Linked DNA regions of Homo sapiens. The protein of the gene in region 1 interacts with the protein of each later gene in a biochemical or structural test. Each region holds a gene or a part of one and is shown in the gene's direction. Other genes may lie near its edges. The genes, in order: PTCH1 and TSPAN8.

Region 1 (10,507 bases):
TACTGCTAAGCCAGCAAGCCAGTTCCTAAATTCCTGTTTGCCAATACCAAGTAGAGAGTTGCCCAACTGAGTTAAATGTTTTGGTCTGTGTTTTATTTTAGTTCTTAGTTTGATTTTAGCTTTTCCTTTGTTCTTAGTATACACTTTTTCAGGCACTAACGTTATCATTATGATATAAAAGCTCAATGTCAAGTAGAGTTTCTTTTGCATATTTACTTTCTCGTTTAACACAAATATAACAAGCACCCCATAAGTGCCATTTGCACAACAGCAAATAATGGGGACCCCCATATCCCTCTGTGTAGCCTAAGGTCTTTTAGGGGAGAGACAAGTTCACAGGCAAAACCAGGGGAAATGCAAGGTGTGCTGGGGTCTCATGAGTTACAGGAGGGTCTCGCTCAGCCTTGTGGGGGATGCTGAATGAGGAAACTTAGCCTGAATTAGAGCCCCCAGCTGGAAACCTGGCAGCTGGAATCCCAGCGCTCTCCTCTCAGCCGGGGTTGTTCCCGCCCAGAAATATCAGGGTTCCTCTTTCAAGCACTTAAAAGGGCTTCCCATTTTCTAGGATGGGATGGATTAACCTGATAAAGGCCTCACCAAGGTCAAATAAATGAGCAGACACTGTATATGCTAAGCCGTCAGAAATCTAATTGGCCTGTTTATGCTTCAGCTAGATGGATGGGATGCAAATGTCTTAATGTGGCTGCTGATACATGCCCCAGCCGAAAGTTCCAGCAGTTTACATTAGACCAAGACATTGGCTGCTTGGTTTTTACTAATGTAGTTCAGAAGTTTCTAGTGTTTACAATAGCTGTGAGGTATTTGTATTTTTATGGGGATTCTCTCTCCTTTCATCTGATGTCAAAACATATATAGACATGGCAGCACTGGTTGCCTGTTCCATTTTATGAACCAGAGGACCATTAACAGATAGATATCTTGCCCCCCCCTTCCCAGAACATCCTGAGCCTCTCCCCTACCCCAGCCCACTTCCATCAGAGTTGCCCTAGAAATCATTAGTTCCAGAAACGCATCCCTGCGTGGAGTCTGTGCCCTCCAGCCATGCAGAGTGTCTGCCAGAGGCTGTCCCTGGCTGACAGGTTTACCTTGGTATTCATGAAGGATTCCAGACCTTAGCCCTCAATGGTGGGAAAGCAGAACTACTTCTGCACTCTCCTCCTCTGCCATGGTGCTGCGGCCTTTATGTTTGAATTGGCTGACGCAAAACAAGAGTATTCAGAGATGCTAAATTGTTCAACAAAAGATTGGCCCGCAGAGCAGCCCCGCCATTGTGGAGTGCCCTCACCCAGCACAATGCCCCAGCTCCCACAGAATGGGCAGCATTTTCTTTGCAGAAAGCTGGTTCCTGTGTTCTAAAAAGGTTGCAATTGGAGCTATTTGGTAAAACTGGAACTCACAGAATTCTAGGCAGAAAGTTGTGATTAATGAAAGGCCAGGGAAAGCCTTACCTGATATGCTAGAGACTTAATTAGAGATTCTGCCGTAAGATGCAGAAGCATTTCACAGTGGATTAGCAGCCTGCAGAAGTGGGCTGCTTTTCCTCCTGGGCTAAATTGTTTAAATTCTACACCCTTCACTTCATTTGTTTGCTTCTGCTGGGTTTTCACGAGCGGGGCCCCTCGGCATTGTGTTTGTGCTTTCAGTCTGCCCAGCCATTCAGGTCGCATTCCATATTTTTGTGTTTGTGTAACACATTCATAAATAACATTACATGCCATCAGAGTTCAGCAAATTAACAAACTAATTTTTTTTTTCTTCCCTTCATGAACTAACACTTTGGGTTGTGGAATGTAGTCCTCAAAGTCATAAGGTAAAGAAACAAAAAGCAAAAACTCACCTTGTGTTGAATGTGAACTGCGGTTGGATAACAGCCTTTTCAGTGGGGTGGGTTTTGTTCATTTCTGGCGTTGCCATGCTGCTGTGTCGGGCACACGGAGGGTGGCGCGATCCACCCTGTCACAGCGCGTGTTCCCGTTTCCTCTTGATCTCCCAGGTATTTCTTTGCTGTGCTGGCGATCCTCACCATCCTCGGCGTTCTCAATGGGCTGGTTTTGCTTCCCGTGCTTTTGTCTTTCTTTGGACCATATCCTGAGGTCAGTAGTGACACGGGGATGTCCCACGTGTAGGCCGGCTGAATGCTGTGTTTCCTGTGCCGCTCTTCACTTCGATACTTAGGTGCCTCCCCACTTGCTGGTGGTTCTTCAGTAAACATCTCAGAGTCATGTCTGTTTTCCTCTTCGGTGTACTGGCTTTGAGGGCTAGAGGGCGGGTTCGGTTTGGTTCCTCTAAATCAACTGATTGGCAGCCTGGGTCTTACAGATCTTTATACAGTAAATGAAGACTTTCCCCTTGAGATGCATAATTGGACTTCACAAGAGTAAAAAGTACACATCCTGCCTTTCCAGTGTGGAGCAGAGGACAGTTCTTCTGCTCCAGCTGCGGGACCTGAAGGTCCTCCAGGTGGTAGAGAAGGGGAGGTTAATACGGCACAGTGCGCAGGGCCCCAGGGCAGGGAACAGAGGCCCCTGAAAAATACCGTGCTTTGAGCTTTGAGTGTGGCCAGCAGGTAAATGGACAAGAACACTTTTAACATGGAATCCCCTTAAATAGGTGTCTCCAGCCAACGGCTTGAACCGCCTGCCCACACCCTCCCCTGAGCCACCCCCCAGCGTGGTCCGCTTCGCCATGCCGCCCGGCCACACGCACAGCGGGTCTGATTCCTCCGACTCGGAGTATAGTTCCCAGACGACAGTGTCAGGCCTCAGCGAGGAGCTTCGGCACTACGAGGCCCAGCAGGGCGCGGGAGGCCCTGCCCACCAAGTGATCGTGGAAGCCACAGAAAACCCCGTCTTCGCCCACTCCACTGTAAGTGACTCTGCAGAACCAGGGGGAGGGGTCTTCCCACCGTGGTAGTGGGCCTGGAGGTCCAGCGGGGGCTCCTGTCTGCTGAGCAGCACATCACACAGGCAGATGGGATGCAGAGATAAGGTACAGACTAGGTCAAATCATAGGAAATAACCAGTATTTAACTCTTTCTCAACTATACAAATGCCATCTTCCTGTGGTTTGATCTCATAAAGGATAAAAAGGGCAGGGGCCAGTAATGTCACTGCACAAAGCAGTAGCATCTATCTTGTTCAGGGTGAGGACAGTTTGGGCTTCAAAGGCCAGAGATAAAGCATTCCTGCCTTTTTTTTTTTTTTCCTCTTAAGGTGCATGTCATTTGAGAGTGATATTTTCTAAAACTAGTAGTATTTTTATTGCCAACAGAGGTCAGGTTTTTTCCTTCTCTCATTTCTGTTAGGTTTCAATGCCCTTGATACAACATTCATTATTATTGTCTAAATACTTTACCATAGCTTTTGGGGCTCCAAGCTCATGTTCCAGGTGGCAGGAAAGAGCAGAGAGGCCAAGAACCACCCCTGAGTTCTTAGCCTTCAGTGATTCAGGAGGTCACCAGGAGCCTGGGAGCCCCTCCTCGGAGGCTCCAAGGACCTGGGTCCTTTCCTCCACCCTGTGCTCCCTGGGATGGGCTCAGCCCTGAAAACTCAAGGAAGGTTCTGGGCTGATGTTGCTCCACTGAGGGCCCCCTGCTGTCCCTCCAGGAAATGGGTATTCCAGTCCCAGGCCAGAGCAGCCCTTCCGTGAAAGAGAGAAAGGCCAACCAAATAACCTGAATTGTCCTCCTCCTACCCCCCGCGACGACGCCCGCTGAGCTGCAGTGTGAATCTGGTTTTGTTCAGCAGGAGCCTAAAAATAGGTACAAGCTGAACGACTTTGAAGTTGGTCACGGTCCTTTTGATTGATGTGGCCACTGTGTTGCTCTGTGCTTTGTATAGAGACGCAGAGACCAGATTCTTAACAATCAGATGGAACAGGCTGCCCGCCACAGCCCTCCGCAGTGACGAAAATGCCCTCTCTGCTTTCCAGGATGGGAGCCACCGGCCACACGTGGCTGTGGAGCACTTGAAATGTGGCCGGGGCTACCGAGGAGCTGGATTTTGGATTTTAGTTCATTAAAACTTAAGCAACCACATGTCTGGAGCGGCTACTGTGTTTGACAGAGTAGGCAGAGACAGTCCTGCCAGCGTCCTGCACTCAGGCCAGCCAGGGCCGCACACTTAGCAACTTCGGGAGAGGGGCAGCTCAGAGCCTGCAGAACCTAACAGGGTCGGGGGCAGGTTGTGGGGGGCAGCAGCTTGGATGCTCTGACCACAGCCCACATTTATGGGCAGCAGCAGTACGTGTCCAGCCAGCCGTGTCAGAGAAAGCCTGGAAACAGGATTTTCAAACAACACGCTCCTCCGCCAGGTCCTGGAGGTTATTAGAAGGACAGGCTTTTCTTTTGTGGGTGGAAGGCCCCCATTGGCTCCCCAGGGTTGACTGAGTCTTTGGTGAAACCCAAGGAGGGAAGTGTGGGAGCTGCGGGGACCATGCCCAGCCTGGGATACCACCCTTCTAACCCACCCTCACCCTCTGCAGGTGGTCCATCCCGAATCCAGGCATCACCCACCCTCGAACCCGAGACAGCAGCCCCACCTGGACTCAGGGTCCCTGCCTCCCGGACGGCAAGGCCAGCAGCCCCGCAGGGACCCCCCCAGAGAAGGCTTGTGGCCACCCCCCTACAGACCGCGCAGAGACGCTTTTGAAATTTCTACTGAAGGGCATTCTGGCCCTAGCAATAGGGCCCGCTGGGGCCCTCGCGGGGCCCGTTCTCACAACCCTCGGAACCCAGCGTCCACTGCCATGGGCAGCTCCGTGCCCGGCTACTGCCAGCCCATCACCACTGTGACGGCTTCTGCCTCCGTGACTGTCGCCGTGCACCCGCCGCCTGTCCCTGGGCCTGGGCGGAACCCCCGAGGGGGACTCTGCCCAGGCTACCCTGAGACTGACCACGGCCTGTTTGAGGACCCCCACGTGCCTTTCCACGTCCGGTGTGAGAGGAGGGATTCGAAGGTGGAAGTCATTGAGCTGCAGGACGTGGAATGCGAGGAGAGGCCCCGGGGAAGCAGCTCCAACTGAGGTGAGTGCCACTGACAAGGGCAGCCAAGGGACCTAGAGCCAGGCAAAGAGGAGGACAAGGTTCTCCTGGGGTTCTCGGCATCCCCGAGGGGCTGTGGCGCTCGGGCACATCCCACGCTGGACCCCAGTGACCTTTTATCCCCAGAGCAAGGCTGATGTGTCCAAGCTTTGTCATCCTTGGGGAACCAGTCCAGCTCCACACTGCTCTCTTCCCCCACTGCTAACCTGCGGAGGGTCGGTGCAGCGCCACAAGGACACAAACAGCACCACCTTTTACCAATATTTGCCAGTCTTTATGGAGGTGCATGCCACAGCGAATTGGTCACATGGGAACGCATCCGTGTAACCAGCCCCCAGATGAAGGGAGAGGTCACAAGCAGCCCCCAGGGACACCTCAGGCCCACACCCCACTCTCGTGATTTCTAATACCAAGGTTACTGCTGCCTGCTTTTGTACTTTATAAATACGGACTTGCACACCTCTTACTCTGTTCAACTTCCTTTTTTGCTTCCTTTTAAAGGGTGATTAAAATCTGAAGCAAAGAGGCCAAAGATTGGAAACCCCCCACCCCCACCTCTTTCCAGAACTGCTTGAAGAGAACTGGTTGGAGTTATGGAAAAGATGCCCTGTGCCAGGACAGCAGTTCATTGTTACTGTAACCGATTGTATTATTTTGTTAAATATTTCTATAAATATTTAAGAGATGTACACATGTGTAATATAGGAAGGAAGGATGTAAAGTGGTATGATCTGGGGCTTCTCCACTCCTGCCCCAGAGTGTGGAGGCCACAGTGGGGCCTCTCCGTATTTGTGCATTGGGCTCCGTGCCACAACCAAGCTTCATTAGTCTTAAATTTCAGCATATGTTGCTGCTGCTTAAATATTGTATAATTTACTTGTATAATTCTATGCAAATATTGCTTATGTAATAGGATTATTTTGTAAAGGTTTCTGTTTAAAATATTTTAAATTTGCATATCACAACCCTGTGGTAGTATGAAATGTTACTGTTAACTTTCAAACACGCTATGCGTGATAATTTTTTTGTTTAATGAGCAGATATGAAGAAAGCACGTTAATCCTGGTGGCTTCTCTAGGTGTCGTTGTGTGCGGTCCTCTTGTTTGGCTGTGCGTGTGAACACGTGTGTGAGTTCACCATGTACTGTACTGTGATTTTTTTTTTGTCTTGTTTTGTTTCTCTACACTGTCTGTAACCTGTAGTAGGCTCTGACCTAGTCAGGCTGGAAGCGTCAGGATATCTTTTCTTCGTGCTGGTGAGGGCTGGCCCTAAACATCCACCTAATCCTTTCAAATCAGCCCGGCAAAAGCTAGACTCTCCTCGTGTCTACGGCATCTCTTATGATCATTGGCTGCCATCCAGGACCCCAATTTGTGCTTCAGGGGGATAATCTCCTTCTCTCGGATCATTGTGATGGATGCTGGAACCTCAGGGTATGGAGCTCACATCAGTTCATCATGGTGGGTGTTAGAGAATTCGGTGACATGCCTAGTGCTGAGCCTTGGCTGGGCCATGAGAGTCTGTATACTCTAAAAAGCATGCAGCATGGTGCCCCTCTTCTGACCAACACACACACGACCCCTCCCCCAACACCCCCAAATTCAAGAGTGGATGTGGCCCTGTCACAGGTAGAAAAACCTATTTAGTTAATTCTTTCTTGGCCCACAGTCTCCCAGAAATGATGTTTTGAGTCCCTATAGTTTAAACTCCCTCTCTTAAATGGAGCAGCTGGTTGAGGCTTTCTAGATCTGTTTGCATCTTCTTTAAAACTAAGTGGTGAGCATGCATTGTGGTGTAGAGGCAGGCATTATGTAGGATAAGAGCTCCGGGGGGATTCTTCATGCACCAGTGTTTAGGGTACGTGCTTCCTAAGTAAATCCAAACATTGTCTCCATCCTCCCCGTCATTAGTGCTCTTTCAATGTGATGTGGGAAAGCAGGAGGATGGACACACCCCACTGAAAGATGTAGGCAGGGGCAGGTCTCTCAACCAGGCATATTTTTAAAAGTTGCTTCTGTACTGGTTCTCTTCTTTTGCTCTGAGGTGTGGGCTCCCTCATCTCGTAACCAGAGACCAGCACATGTCAGGGAAGCACCCAGTGTCGGCTCCCCATCCAAATCCACACCAGCACCTTGTTACAGACAAGAAGTCAGAGGAAAGGGCGGGGTCCCTGCAGGGCTGAAGCCTAAGCTACTGTGAGGCGCTCACGAGTGGCAGCTCCTGTTACTCCCTTTTAAATTACCTGGGAAATCTTAACAGAAAGGTAATGGGCCCCCAGAAATACCCACAGCATAGTGACCTCAGACCCTGATACTCACCACAAAACTTTTAAGATGCTGATTGGGAGCCGCTTGTGGCTGCTGGGTGTGTGTGTGTGTGTGTGCGTGCGTGCGTGTGTGTGTGTCTCTGCTGGGGACCCTGGCCACCCCCCTGCTGCTGTCTTGGTGCCTGTCACCCACATGGTCTGCCATCCTAACACCCAGCTCTGCTCAGAAAACGTCCTGCGTGGAGGAGGGATGATGCAGAATTCTGAAGTCGACTTCCCTCTGGCTCCTGGCGTGCCCTCGCTCCCTTCCTGAGCCCAGCTCGTGTTGCGCCGGAGGCTGCGCGGCCCCTGATTTCTGCATGGTGTAGAACTTTCTCCAATAGTCACATTGGCAAAGGGAGAACTGGGGTGGGCGGGGGGTGGGGCTGGCAGGGAATTAGAATTTCTCTCTCTCTTTTAATAGTTTTATTTTGTCTGTCCTGTTTGTTCATTTGGATGTTTTAATTTTTAAAAAAAAAAAAACTTTGCTGATATTTATAATTTTGTATCATAAGAATGTTTTCCTCTACAGTATTTGTCATGCCAGTTTATAACAAAAAAAAATGCAGGGATTTTATTTCTATTGGAAACATTACAGCTATGTTTTACTTTTGGACAGAATTTTTATTTGTATAGAGTGCTTACTAATGTTAAATAGTTCAGAGTATATAACATTTACATTAAGGACTCATGGTAGGTTTTAGGGTAAGGAGTTTAAAGGAAATAAATATTCAAACTGGGTCTCATTGCCAATTTTGGTGGAAATGAGTTTGTGTCATTTCAATTACAAAGATAAAAGTATGCCATATAATTTATTTATATGAAGATTTATTTTTGTAGTGTACATAGTAGTCATCAAGTCTTTTGACAGAAGTATATTTTTAAAGAATTTATATGTGATGAATCCATAATGTCTGGAACTTTGCTGAGACATGAGTGGGCACAGTTTTCATTGTAAATTACAGCAAGGAAAGAAAATGTTTAACAGTGTTAAGAGAGTCAGAGCAGAGTGGATATTCATGCGATTATGAAGTGTTTATTAGTTACCATTGGCGACCTAGCATGCTTCTCATTTCAAACCTTGGAAGGTGAAAATGTACAAACTCTCTAAATAATTAATGTTCAAACACTGATAGAAATTCTAACATGAATAAAAAATAATATAACTTGTTGGTTATATCTTTGTTTGTAGAATGCTTTTTTTCTTTAAAATACTTGGGAGAGACAGTTAGTGTTGGAGCCATCAGAAACTGTTGTTTCATCTTGCTGACCTTGTGACACTCTTCTTTTTTGCTCTATCTGATGGAGAGAGTTTTAGGTTTTCCTCCTTTTTGTTTTGTATAAATAGTGGGTATAAGCATAGCTCTGTTACATGGATGTATTACAAAGTGGGGGCTGAGCTTTTAGTGTGATCATCACCCAAATAGTGTACATTGTACCCATTAATTAATTTCTTATCACCTGACCCTATTTTTGTTTTCTCATACCAAGAAACTTCCTAAGTTAACCATCAAAATTAGTCCTTCTGTCATCTCTCTTAGCATACTTATTTCCCTTATGTGATGCCTAATAATGAGGGAACATAAATAAAGCCAAATTCAAAGATGATTATCATCAGTGAAGGTGTCATACTTCTAAACAGTGTCAAAGATAATATGGAATTGATTGAACCTGATACAGAACAGTTTTTGAGTGTTTCCTGGTAAGCAATGATTTCATCATAGGCATGGAGAAAAATATGGCCAGGAATATCATGTCCATGTTACAGCTGTGTAAGCAAGGAGTGGTGGGGCTGAACTCAAGGCCCACACTGCTGTGCACATGGGCAAGTTGCAGAGGGGTCAGTGAGCCACAGCCGGCTGGCCATGTCCTGTTGCACAGGTTCATGAGGAGAGAGTCGTGCCTGTTGCCGCACATGTTGTTGATGGCTGTTTTTCTGCTGCAACGGCAGAGTTCAGTAGCTGCAACACAGACTATGGTCTGCAGAGACTATGATATTTACTATCTGGCCGTAAGACACCTGCCAATCCATCTCTAGACAAGGTAACATAGGCCAGTGCTAGTCAAGTGTGGTCCACGAATCAGCCTGCCTTGGAAGCTTGCTAGAAAAACCGAATCCAACACCACCTAACTCAGAATCTTGGAGTGAGGTCCAGGAATCTGCTTTAACGATCTGTCCTGGTGGTTGTGATGCACCAGCGGAGGCGATCCCGAAATTCCAGCTGAGTGTGGCCAGGTTCTATCATTTGGCTTCGGCTCCTGGGCCAGTGCGGGCCGGATCTGGAAATGGCACAGAGATACCGACTCCACTGTGTGGTCCTTTCACAAAACACATGCTCCTCTGTGGGTGAGCCCAGGCCAGGAGCTTGACTGTTACGTCTGGGAGTCCAGAGTGAGGAACTCCCTTCTTAGTGCTCACCCCACAGTGAGGGAGGACCTGGAAGGAGAGTGTGGGCCCCTTTCCTAGAGGGGAGGGGGAGCCACGCCGGGCCCTTCCACGGAGAGGGCTCCCTGTCACCCACTTGACTGGCTTGGGCAAGTCTCTTAAAACCCCAGAGCCTGTGTGTCCTCATCTGTAAATTAAAGAGATAAATATCCCTTGAAAACTTCTGAAGGGTGGCAGCAGTGATGCTGGTGACGAGGTCTGGATCTCAGGGGCTGGCCGGAGTCGTCTGAGTGAGAATTGGACAGCCCCATCCTGAGGACCCCACTCCAAACCCCAGTTCAATCACCAGCTCTGCCTCAGGGTTCCCATCTTGAAGATGACAAGGGCTCCCCATAGAAACAATGGGCGCTGCTATGGGAATAGTTCATGTTTACTGAGCCCCTCTTGGGAGGCATTTGAGGTAGCACAGTAAATTCTGACCAAGGAATAAGATGTTCAGGTAATACACTGTCCTCCTTAATACTACACATAACAGCTAATTTGGCTCATTTAAGCCACAGAGAATATGTTCTCCCTGAATCTGAGTACGGGAAATAGTAATTGCATTAATTGGAATTCAGATTGGGACATGCTTTCCCCAAGACACGTTTAATACCACCAAAATGACCATTTGCTACCATCCAATTTTATATTCCTTATAAATGACACATAGCTAACTAGCTAACTTAGTTTTTAACCATGTTGGCCTAGGGAG
Region 2 (10,507 bases), on another chromosome or scaffold:
AGAACTACATCAGGCCATGCTTGTAAAGGGAATGCACATTCTACTCTTTTTTTTTTTTTTTTTGAGACAAGAGTTTTGCTCTTGTTGCCCAGGCTGGAGTGCAATGGCGTGATCTTAGCTCACTGCAACCTCCACCTGCCGGGTTCAAGCAATTCTCCTGCCTCAGCCTCCTGAGTAGCTGGGATTACAGGCACGTGCCACCACACTCGGCTAATTTTTTTGGTATTTTTAGTAGAGACAAGGTTTCACCATGTTGGCCAAACTGGTCTTGAACTCCTGACCTTAGGTGATCCACCTGCCTCAGCACATTCTACTCTGAATGAACTCTAAATCAGAATTGGTCTCATCTTTTTCAAGGAAATTTAGCATAAGACCTAATAAAAAATACTGTTGAACAAGTGAAAGATATTGCCACCCTGAAGACTTAGAGGACAAGCACACATCCCTGAAATAAATATTCTAGAATCCTGAAAAAATGTATGTAGAAATTGGTATCCACAATGTGATGCTAGAAAGTAACCTCTCATGAAACAGTGAATGGAGGCCATAAGAGAAAATAAAATTTATTGGAAAACAACGGGATGAGATAAAAAGGGAAATGGATAAAATATGTAAGGACTGCAAGTAAACTACAAACATAATAGCAGAATTAAACTTCACTGTAGAGATCACATTAAATAAAGACAGTGACATAGAATCCCAAACTGATAAGCTTTCCCACAGGAAAATCAAATAAGAAATCAGAATATTGTGAAAGAAGATAATAGATACAGACAACAGAGAATGGAAACCCAAAATAAGCTGTACTCCTGAAAAAGAGGACAAAATAAATGGAACACAAATAATAATCAAATTAATATATGGAAATTTTGTGGAGCTGAAAACATACCTGTATGCAGATGGCAAGTGCCTGATCTACCCCAGTGAAAGAAGACATCTATGCCTAAATAAATGTTAAGAAAACTACTAACTTAGTTAAAAGATAAATAAACATCTTACAAATGTCTAGATACAACTGACAAAAAAGAAAACAAGCAAATAATGCATGAACGAAAATAAGGCTGGTGATATTCTTCTCCTATTGTAACCCTGAAAGTCAGAAGACAATGAAACAATGTCTGCTGAGTATTCAGAGCCTTTCACAAATGAATAAGAGAGAAAGAGATCTTCAGGTATTCACACTGTAAAATTTACTGAAACATATCCAAAATGATTAAGGTATAAGTAAAAATGGATAATTGAAGCATGGGAAAATCATGGTTAAATGGCTAACCATTTTAGGTCTGGAAATAAAGAAGTCACATGTCTAAATAGTTATATTTTTTATTATCTCAAATGTAGATTGGAAGGATATTTGGAAAGAGATGTAATAGAAAATAGCAATTTAGTAACATTTACTCTGCGCTAAAGCCCAAGACTGATTACACTAAATAGCATTTATTGGATTATATGGAGGGAACACTGTTAGAGATACAGAATAGTAAATGCAAACTCCATTAATTCAGCTTAACACAACTTAACCTGCCTCTCAGTTTTTGATAACTCAGGAAGGAAAAGAAAAAACATGGATACAGGGGATCTAAATGATTTAATGAATAAAGTATATTTACTAAATTTCTAATAAACTTTGTACCCTCTTGAGACTTTGTTGTCTTTTCTAGTATCTCTGAATCTTTAGAAATTGATGAAGGAAATGCAAAAAAACTCACAAGTAACAATCCTACAGTCTGCATTCTCTTACCACAATACAATTGAACTAAGACTTTTAAATAAATGTTTAGTAAAAGAAACTTGAAAATGAACAATAACAGTAGCAGCAGCAGTACAGTCCTAGTATGTTAGGGCTTTCGGAATCCTTGTTCCCTATAATCATGGAGTCGCCTCTAGTGTTCTGTGTTTATCATAAAAACAAATCTTGTAGTTATCCACTTGCATATTTTCTTATTCTTTTTTATCCTCTCAGGAGCAGCACAAGAAGAGTTTCTTAAGCTTACCTAAAAGGTGTCCATTTTGGGACCAATAATGATGTAGTTCAAAATCCACTCCTCCTCCTAACACAGCATTTTCAGCATTCTCCAAACATACTTCAATAAACACCAAATAAAAGGGTACAATTTGGAGGGAAGAAGTAGGGATGATTGGAGACACATTATCAAAGAAAAGGACAAATCAACATTCTACCATTTATCTTTCTTCTGGATGGTATCTTCCCCCGCCCCCTTTTTTTTCCTGATATTTTATGGTCTTCAGCATCTGCCTGTTCTTAGTCATCTGCTTGGGCTCTCATAACAAGATACTGTAGACTGGGTGGCTTAAACAACAGAAATTAATTTTCTTATAGTTCTGGAGGCTAGGAAGGCTAAGATTAAGGTGCCAGCCAACTGAGTTTCCGGTGAGGACCCTCTTTCTGTGGCCATCTTCTCATGTTCTCACATGTCCTTTCCCTGGGTATGAGTAGAGAAAGAAAGATTTATCTCCTATAAGGTCACCAGTTCTATCAGATTATAACCCCATCTTCATGACCTCATTTAATCTTAATTATCTTCTAAAAGCCTATCATCAAAAACAGATACATTGGAGGTTAGGGCTTCAACATATGAATTTTGTGGAGACACAATTCAGTCCATTATAAGCAAATATCAAAATTGCCTAATTTCTTAGGATGCTGGTCCAGACCAATTGCATCCAAATTCCATAAAATGATGGCTGTTCCATGAAAGCTGAATGAAAACCAGAACAATTCTCAAAGAGAGACCAGAAGCAGGGGAAAGGTAGGCCTAGTCAGTTCCACAGGGTCCTGGAACCACCATACTAACCCATTTTACTTTTACAATGTTATTAACGAAAGTAGAGAGCAGGCATTTATTTATTAATTTATACTTTTAATTGTTTAAAATAGTATAAAAACATTAGGGGAAAAGCTCTAAAAGCTAAACTTGGTAAAGGGCTCCAAGTACCATTATGATGGTCAATCTTTTAACAATGGGATGAAATAGTTTAGTATTATTCATGACTCTAGGATGGTCATTCTTGATAGAAAATAAATTGACTTTCAAAGTCATTCAACAAAGTTACGAATAATTTCATGATATTAGACTGATATTTACATGGGAATTTCTCCACTCAAATGAGAATGATATACTCTAAACATTTGTTTCATTTTTAAAATGAAGTTTGAAGAAAAGATAAGAGTTAGGGGTGGAAATGATACTTTGGCCAACTTCAAAGTTCCTGAGAAAGATTGTCTAATTCTGAAGATTAGTTGGGCAAAATATTTTTGACTTCTGAAACAACTGGTTACTCTTTCTTTTAAATGTTAATGTTACAGAAAATTTTCAGTGGCTGAGAAGACTAAAAGTTGCTATCTGAGGGGCAGATATGATTGATTTAATAAGATTTATGAATGATCTGATATCTAAATACCTTGAAAAAGTGAATAGTGATACACGAACAAAAAAAGTTTTAAAAAATATCACACTGAGTTCTTACTAAGCTCTTACTAAGAATTCTTAAAGTTTTTTCGTTGATAGTTTAACAAATATCAGGAAAGAATGCTACTCATAATAGCTACAAGGTTCATTAGTTACAGATGAAGGCCAGAATGACTATTAAGCCAATCATTATGAATCTGCTTGTGAAAAGAGAAGAAAACGAAAGAAGATAATCAGTGAACAAACTAAACAACAAACAAAAAATTCAGTTGGTATGAAATTACTGAAAATCCCAGAGGGTCTCATTATCATTTGACATAAATTATCACTCACAAACTGTTTAACAAAGGACTGCTAAAATGAGCATTTGTCTTTGTTTGCAAATGAAATTAGAATTTTGTGAAAGGATGCTATAAATCTCAGGGTTAGAGAAGTAAGGAAAGTTTTCAAACACGAAAGCTGTGTTTTTTAATCATTTGTATTTTATGGTGTGTGTGTGTCTATGTGTGTGTATGAGATAATTGCATAGGTTATTTGGTGGTTAAAGAGCTTTGGTTTTTAATTGCATTAGTTATTTTGTAGGAGCTGAAGTATGTTGTAAGGGCAGATTGGTTAGGAATTGCTCCGGGTTTTCATGATGTAATAATTAGCGCCCAGGATTCCAATTTCTCCATTCAAAATGAGAGGTTTAGACCTAGATGATTTTCAAGGTCTTTTAGGGAGCACAGAGTCTATGGTTACTCAACTACTCATTGTGCTTCCTATTCCTTAACAGAGCCCTTGACTCTATTTCCCCTGCAAACTCAATGAGAAGCCATTAAAAGTGCTGTCTTGGGGTTCTAGGCGTATGTCTCAACCATGCACGAAAGCAATGATGCTCCAAGGACATTTGTCTGTCAGAGCACAGCAAGGTCAGAATTGTCTACTAAGTCCCCCAAGGCCTGCTGTGTCTGGTATGTTACCAGACACAGCTCTTAACATCTCTATCTAATAATAGATCTTTGATTTTTGTTTTTGAAGCCACAATGCATAACTTTTTTTTTTAAACCCTGAATGACAAGAGTTTTCCTTACACTAAAGTAAAATGTGTTTTACATTTTATTGTGTTGGCATTGGTCCAAATTAAATAATCTGGTAAAATCATTAAAGGAATTTAAGACTTCAAGTTCTGTCTTTCATTGTTCCTTCTCTGTGAGTAAACTTTACCACCTAAAAGAGCTTGTTTTTAAGAGAGTTTATTTGGGTTCAAAAAGTGTTGATTATTATATAGCCTTGTTGCTTAACTGCACATCTTGTCGTATGTTTTACTTTTTCCCCCTCTATCCCAACATCTCCCTTCCTGTCGAATCTTAAATGAATGGTGACTATTCCGTCATTCCCTTTTTTCCTGGTCCAACATAGCTTCTCACAAACAAGCCCAGAGGCATGATAAGGATATTTTATCTTTAAACTGTTGTGACTTTTCTTTTGTATGCTAAAATCTAGCAGAAACACAGGGCTAGAGTTACATGGAAAAATAATCTTTCCAGGCCTAATGGAAATAACTTCTTGTCCATAGAGCTGTGAGTGAGTTGTGGATGAGAAATAGAATTATTCTCATCAAACTTACACATTGCAATTTAACATTTCAACAATGATCTGTATATGAATATGCCTCATTTATGTCTTCCAGGTTGTGATAGTATAGTCGATGATGAACTACTGTCACCGGATAGATAGGAGGGTGTGGAAATAGAGTTTCATATGATCCTAATTGTATTCTTTTTGTTTGTTTGTTTTTTTCTGCAGCTATGTGGTATCTTGATCCTAGCATTAGCAATATGGGTACGAGTAAGCAATGACTCTCAAGCAGTAAGTATGCAAAAACAAGTCACCCTTTCCCCAATGTAGTTTATTTCATTTATAATAATGAAAGTTATAACAATAATAGTAATAAACATGTCTAAAACATTTTTCTTAACTGCTTCATGTAATCACTTGTGCTGTTATGTGATTTTATAATTCAGTTCAATCAATTAAAATTACTATGTGGCTGGCACTGTGCTAGATGTGGAAAAATCTTTCTAGAGAATGGAGGAGGTGTTATTCAAAAATTCAAAAAAATTCAGTGAGATGCAGGTGGGAAGGGGCCAAAGTGGAAATTTTCCTCCTTTACTATTTGTTTAAGGCCTATATTGAGGATATAGGCCACCTCTCCTTCTCACCAAGAAGAATAATTTTTATAGTAGAAGGTTTTGACAATAATTTAGTTGATCCCAATGTGGTTGGTCCAAAAGGAAAGAAAATGAGAAGTTTTCTTGGAGAAGAATAATTTGAATCTGTATTTTAAAGGCAACAAGGTACAAGGGTACTTGTTATTTACCTGTGGCAACTGGCAGTGAAGGTAACCACTTGCCAGTAGTGGCTAATCTAACTTGGTGAAACTCAGTAATTCTCTGGGGATGTCCAGATTATTGCTATATGTATAAGATGAACATGACCCATTTTCCTCCCCCACACACCATTCCGTGCCCAGTGCCAAAGCTCTTACCCAGATCTACAGGTCTGGAGGAAGTGTATTTCGTATGGTTAATTCTGGCTCCAGCTATTGGACCCCATACGTGTGGTATCTGTTCCATGCCACAGTATCACAAATGTGGAAAGGGTTGGGGGAAGAGGGAGGGGCGAGTGTGCGGGGATTGTTCTGTCAGTTTTACGGAACATAATACCACCCTGGCACCATTTCCTGGCTCCCGTGCTTTTATTCTTTTCTCTCCCTTCTTCTATTCTGGGGCTCCATCCCCACAAATTATTATTCTAACACATTCAGAGCCATTAATTTGTTCTTTGTTTTCTGGGCTCTTGCCACTAAAGGATCACCTCTTCTACTGCTAGAGCCTTTTTAAGGTATTTGCCCACATAAAGAGAGTTTCTCCTCTCTGAGAAGAATTTTGATTCCAAGTTGATAATTACTGAGAGATTTATTAAGCCAGCAATTAAGACAATGCATTTTCTACTAAAACGTATTTCACCATGGTGCAGCTAAATGCCTTTGAACACAGCCTAGTGGAAAGGAAGATGAAAAGGGAATTAATGTCTGCTCTGTTTTCTTCGCTGCAGTGGGTGGCTTTTCTGAAAATTTCTTTCTCACTCTATCTCTGTTTTTTTTTTTTTTGTTTTTTTCCTCTCTCTCTCTCCTGTTGTTCTTTTCCTTTTAAAATTGCTTTCTGCCCTTAGGGAGCCCAGAGGATCACAGTGGCAATTAGCGGCTTCCACATTCTGTGCCTCACCATGGTGAAGAAATTGGGTGGGAGATGGGTGTGGCAGCTTTTTAGTAACATCCTAGTCCATCAGGATTTCACTTATTGTTTTCTACTGATAACCATAACTGTGACTTCCTGATGGCCTGGAGCTCTGGTGTGTGAGCCCAAGAAGTGCATTTGAAGATGTGCAGAATTACCATCCTGTAGAATCTGAAGTCTGACTTTGGGACTCATAATTAAGCACAGAGATTAACAGTCACCTACTTACAGGGTGCTGTGGCCTCTTCAAGATGTGTGTGTAGCCTGCAATTTATTTTATTTTAATTTTACTTCCTGTTGGTATTTTCTTTCCCTCCCAGTGCTTCTGGTAAACAAATTTGGTGTTTAGTCTGTTAAAAAATTGCACATATTGAATGTATTAAAGGGGAACTGTTGTCCTTGAGAGGGTGCTCCTCCACATCTGGGGATAAGAATGAATTAATAGAGCTAGACAGCATCTTTAGTTACGTTTTGACTCACGCTTCATCAGCCTCTCACACTGAACAAAAGCCAGTGTCTGCCAGGACAACATTAACCAGCTTGACTTATATAAAATTGGCTTGGTTTATATTTTTCTCAAGCCAGTGACAAAGAATCAAGACAGAGCAAAGAGCTGAATTTTTTGTTAGTGAAAAAACAGAGGTAGCTGTTTTGGAAGGAAAAACATGAGCATAAACACAGAAAAGAAGGATGTCAGGGAAATGACAGAACTTTCTGCTGAAGTGTCTCATGAAGACCCTTTTTTCTACCTCAGGATAAACTTAGCACCATGAGGAAAAGCACATGAGCAGCCATCCTTGTCCCAGGAGGTCCCTTCTGATCCAAAGAGGATTCCTGAGTCCTCATCTTTCAGGACCAGCTGAATTTCTCTGTCTTTAGAAATTCTCCCCTTGTCCTAAGACACACAGGGACACAGTGTTCATTCAAGACAGCTTTTCAAACCCTGCTGTTCCTCCCCTGGTGCAAACATCTGAACTCAGATTTCCACTTCATTCTTGAATAAGAATAACCACTTGTTGGGCTGGACTTGGAACAATGACCACTAGACAGTCAACACACTGCTTTCTGGCTAGTCTCTGGCAGTGGGTCACCCTGCCCAGGTTAGCCTCATAGAAGTGTCTCACTACCTGCTGCACAAGTGCTGGTCACACTATCTTGGCCTCATGTGTAGATATTTGAACTATTATTTGTATGTCTGGCATATCTTTTCTAAGTTCTGATAACCCAGCTAGCGAGGCTTCCATCCTCTCATAGGGTTTGCCTGTACTGGCCACAATATTCTAGTGAAGCAATATTTAGCAGGAAGTCCATAGAGCTAGTTTCCTAACACTTCTATTTTTGTCACATTTATTTTGATTCCAATGTCCTGCCTGTTTATTAACAAAACTGATTTTTTAGCTCTAATATTAATGAGAAAACAATAAAAACCAACAAACAAAAATCTTTAGGACTTAACCAAGCTTTCAAAATACGTAAATTGAAACATTATCTGTAAGCATAGACTTTTAGAGACAAAGGAGGCCTTGGCTATCACAGAGGTTGACCCAATTCCCTTTTATAAATGGGGAAACTGGAGCCCACTAGGTTGGGTGACTGTTCCAGGATTACAAACTTATTTATTAGGACCCTGACAAAATATAGATGTTTGTTTTAATGCTTTTATAACTTCAGCACATTCCTTCCTATTGACTGTTGAATAAAAGTTTCCTCTAGGCAATAAGTAGATTTAAAAAGCCTTGAGAAACAAAAATATCATTAGAACATAGCAGTCATTTTTGTATTGACTGTTAAGGGAGCTGACCTACATGCTATATAGCCCATTCTGGGAGGCAGAGGTTTCGAGTTAGTCTAGGAACTAGTGCTCTATCTAGAGACAGCCCAGTAGATAGAGGTTATAGAAGGCAAATGGGCTACATATAGGATTTATGCATAAGACACGCACAAGGCTTTACTTTTTAATTGTGATTTACTTCTGGATAAATCCACTTATCGAGGACAAGAGGTGGCTGAGGCTAAGTGTTATGAGGGTGATGAAGACGAGTATGTGTGTGTTGTTGGGAGAACTGAATTATGCCTGATGGGTAGCCCACCCACTATAAAGGGCTCTAGGATTTTTTTTCCCTTCATATCTCATTAACTAACAGTCAAAATAGAGTTTCTAGATGACTCTATGGACTATGGCTTTTGGGAACAAAGAGATAAAATAGATATGAAATATCAGGAACTGGATTTCTTTTTAATGAGGATACAAAGCATTTTTATTAACCCATGGAAGTTCCCTCATGTCCCTTTTCAGTTAACTCTTGCTTTCCCTTCTGCCTTGCTCAAAGTCAAGCACTGCTTTGATTTTTATAACCATAGTTTTGCTTATGATTGAACTTTATAGAAATGGAATCATACAGTATTTACTTTTTTCTATGGCTTCTTTAGCTCAGCATAATGACTCTGAAATTAATTCATATTGTTGTGTCTATCAATAGTTTAAAGAGCTTGAACTTTTTAAAGAATTAAAAACCATAACAACACATGCTTTTATAATGCACTTTATATAGAATACACAAAATATGTGAACCAAAGATTACATCAAGAAGAGTAAAAGTAACTGTCCTAAGCTTTTAAAAATACGGTTTAAAAAAACCTATTACATTTCTTCCACCCAGCTTTCATCATATCATTTTAGAAAAATATAAGCACTTCAATAGAATGTGAGCTCCATGAGGGCAAGGATTTGTACTTTTTAAGATCACTGATGTATTTCAGGGTCCTGGCACAGGACTTGACACATAGGAGGCACTCAATGGATATTTGTTGAATGAGCAAAATAAACTTCAAGGAAATAAATTTTCTGCCATTAATCTCTTTTTTACTTCAGATTTTTGGTTCTGAAGATGTAGGCTCTAGCTCCTACGTTGCTGTGGACATATTGATTGCTGTAGGTGCCATCATCATGATTCTGGGCTTCCTGGGATGCTGCGGTGCTATAAAAGAAAGTCGCTGCATGCTTCTGTTGGTGAGTTCTCCAAACAAATCCCAGTGTCCAACCTTCAGACTCCAGAGGATTCTCTCCCATCCCTATTGTCTGTTAAAAGAACGTGCCATGATTGATGAAACTCTAACTCCAACTTCTCTTTAGAAGGTTTGATTGTGGAAGCTGATATGGCTTAGATTTGGCTTAGTTTGGCTTAGAAACTGGAGGATACTCTGAGAGGAGACAAATTTTAATCATTCATCCATTCATTCATTCACTCATTCAACATTACTGCCATACCTCTATGTGTCAGATATTGTGCGAAATAATACATAAGACCTTTAGAACCTACTAGGGAAGGTTAATAAGTAAGCAAATAGCTACAGTGGGAGTGGCCCCAGAAGCAAAGGGCAAGACAGGGGATGGGATTTTCAAACCAGGGCAGAAGTGAATAAGGTATTTGTATGAGTGAGGGTAGGAAAAGCTTTCCGGAAAGACAACGTGGCAGTACAGTGCTGGTGTGTTTGGGAACTGAGAAGCCTTGGGTATGGCAGGAGACCGGCAAAACTGTTTCCAGTAAATGATGGAAGATGAATCCAAGTGTGGGTTGTGGTAAAATCATAGGTGTTCTACATGCCATGCTAAAAAAAAAGTTTAAATGAATGAGATAATCAGAATTATCTCTTAGAGAGCATTGAGGAGGATAAATTGGGTTTGGATAATTCACAGGCATTCACTTTTAACATATACAGTAGAAAATGGATATAGTAAAAATATTAGAAAAAAATCAAGTGTTTATCAGATACAAATATGACATAAAAGTTTAT

The links.
Region 2: the proteins of PTCH1 (region 1) and TSPAN8 form a complex in vitro, tested with the Homo sapiens proteins (one study listed by BioGRID).

What each region holds. Positions count from the first base shown.
Region 1 is NC_000009.12:95,441,448-95,451,954, reverse strand, and holds the end of PTCH1 (protein patched homolog 1), read left to right. Parts: intron 1-2,014; coding exon 2,015-2,114; intron 2,115-2,631; coding exon 2,632-2,886; intron 2,887-4,503; coding exon 4,504-5,043; 3' UTR 5,044-5,044; intron 5,045-5,563; 3' UTR 5,564-8,975; downstream 8,976-10,507.
Region 2 is NC_000012.12:71,138,926-71,149,432, reverse strand, and holds part of TSPAN8 (tetraspanin-8), read left to right. Parts: intron 1-5,219; coding exon 5,220-5,282; intron 5,283-9,584; coding exon 9,585-9,722; intron 9,723-10,507. UniProt on the Homo sapiens protein: Structural component of specialized membrane microdomains known as tetraspanin-enriched microdomains (TERMs), which act as platforms for receptor clustering and signaling.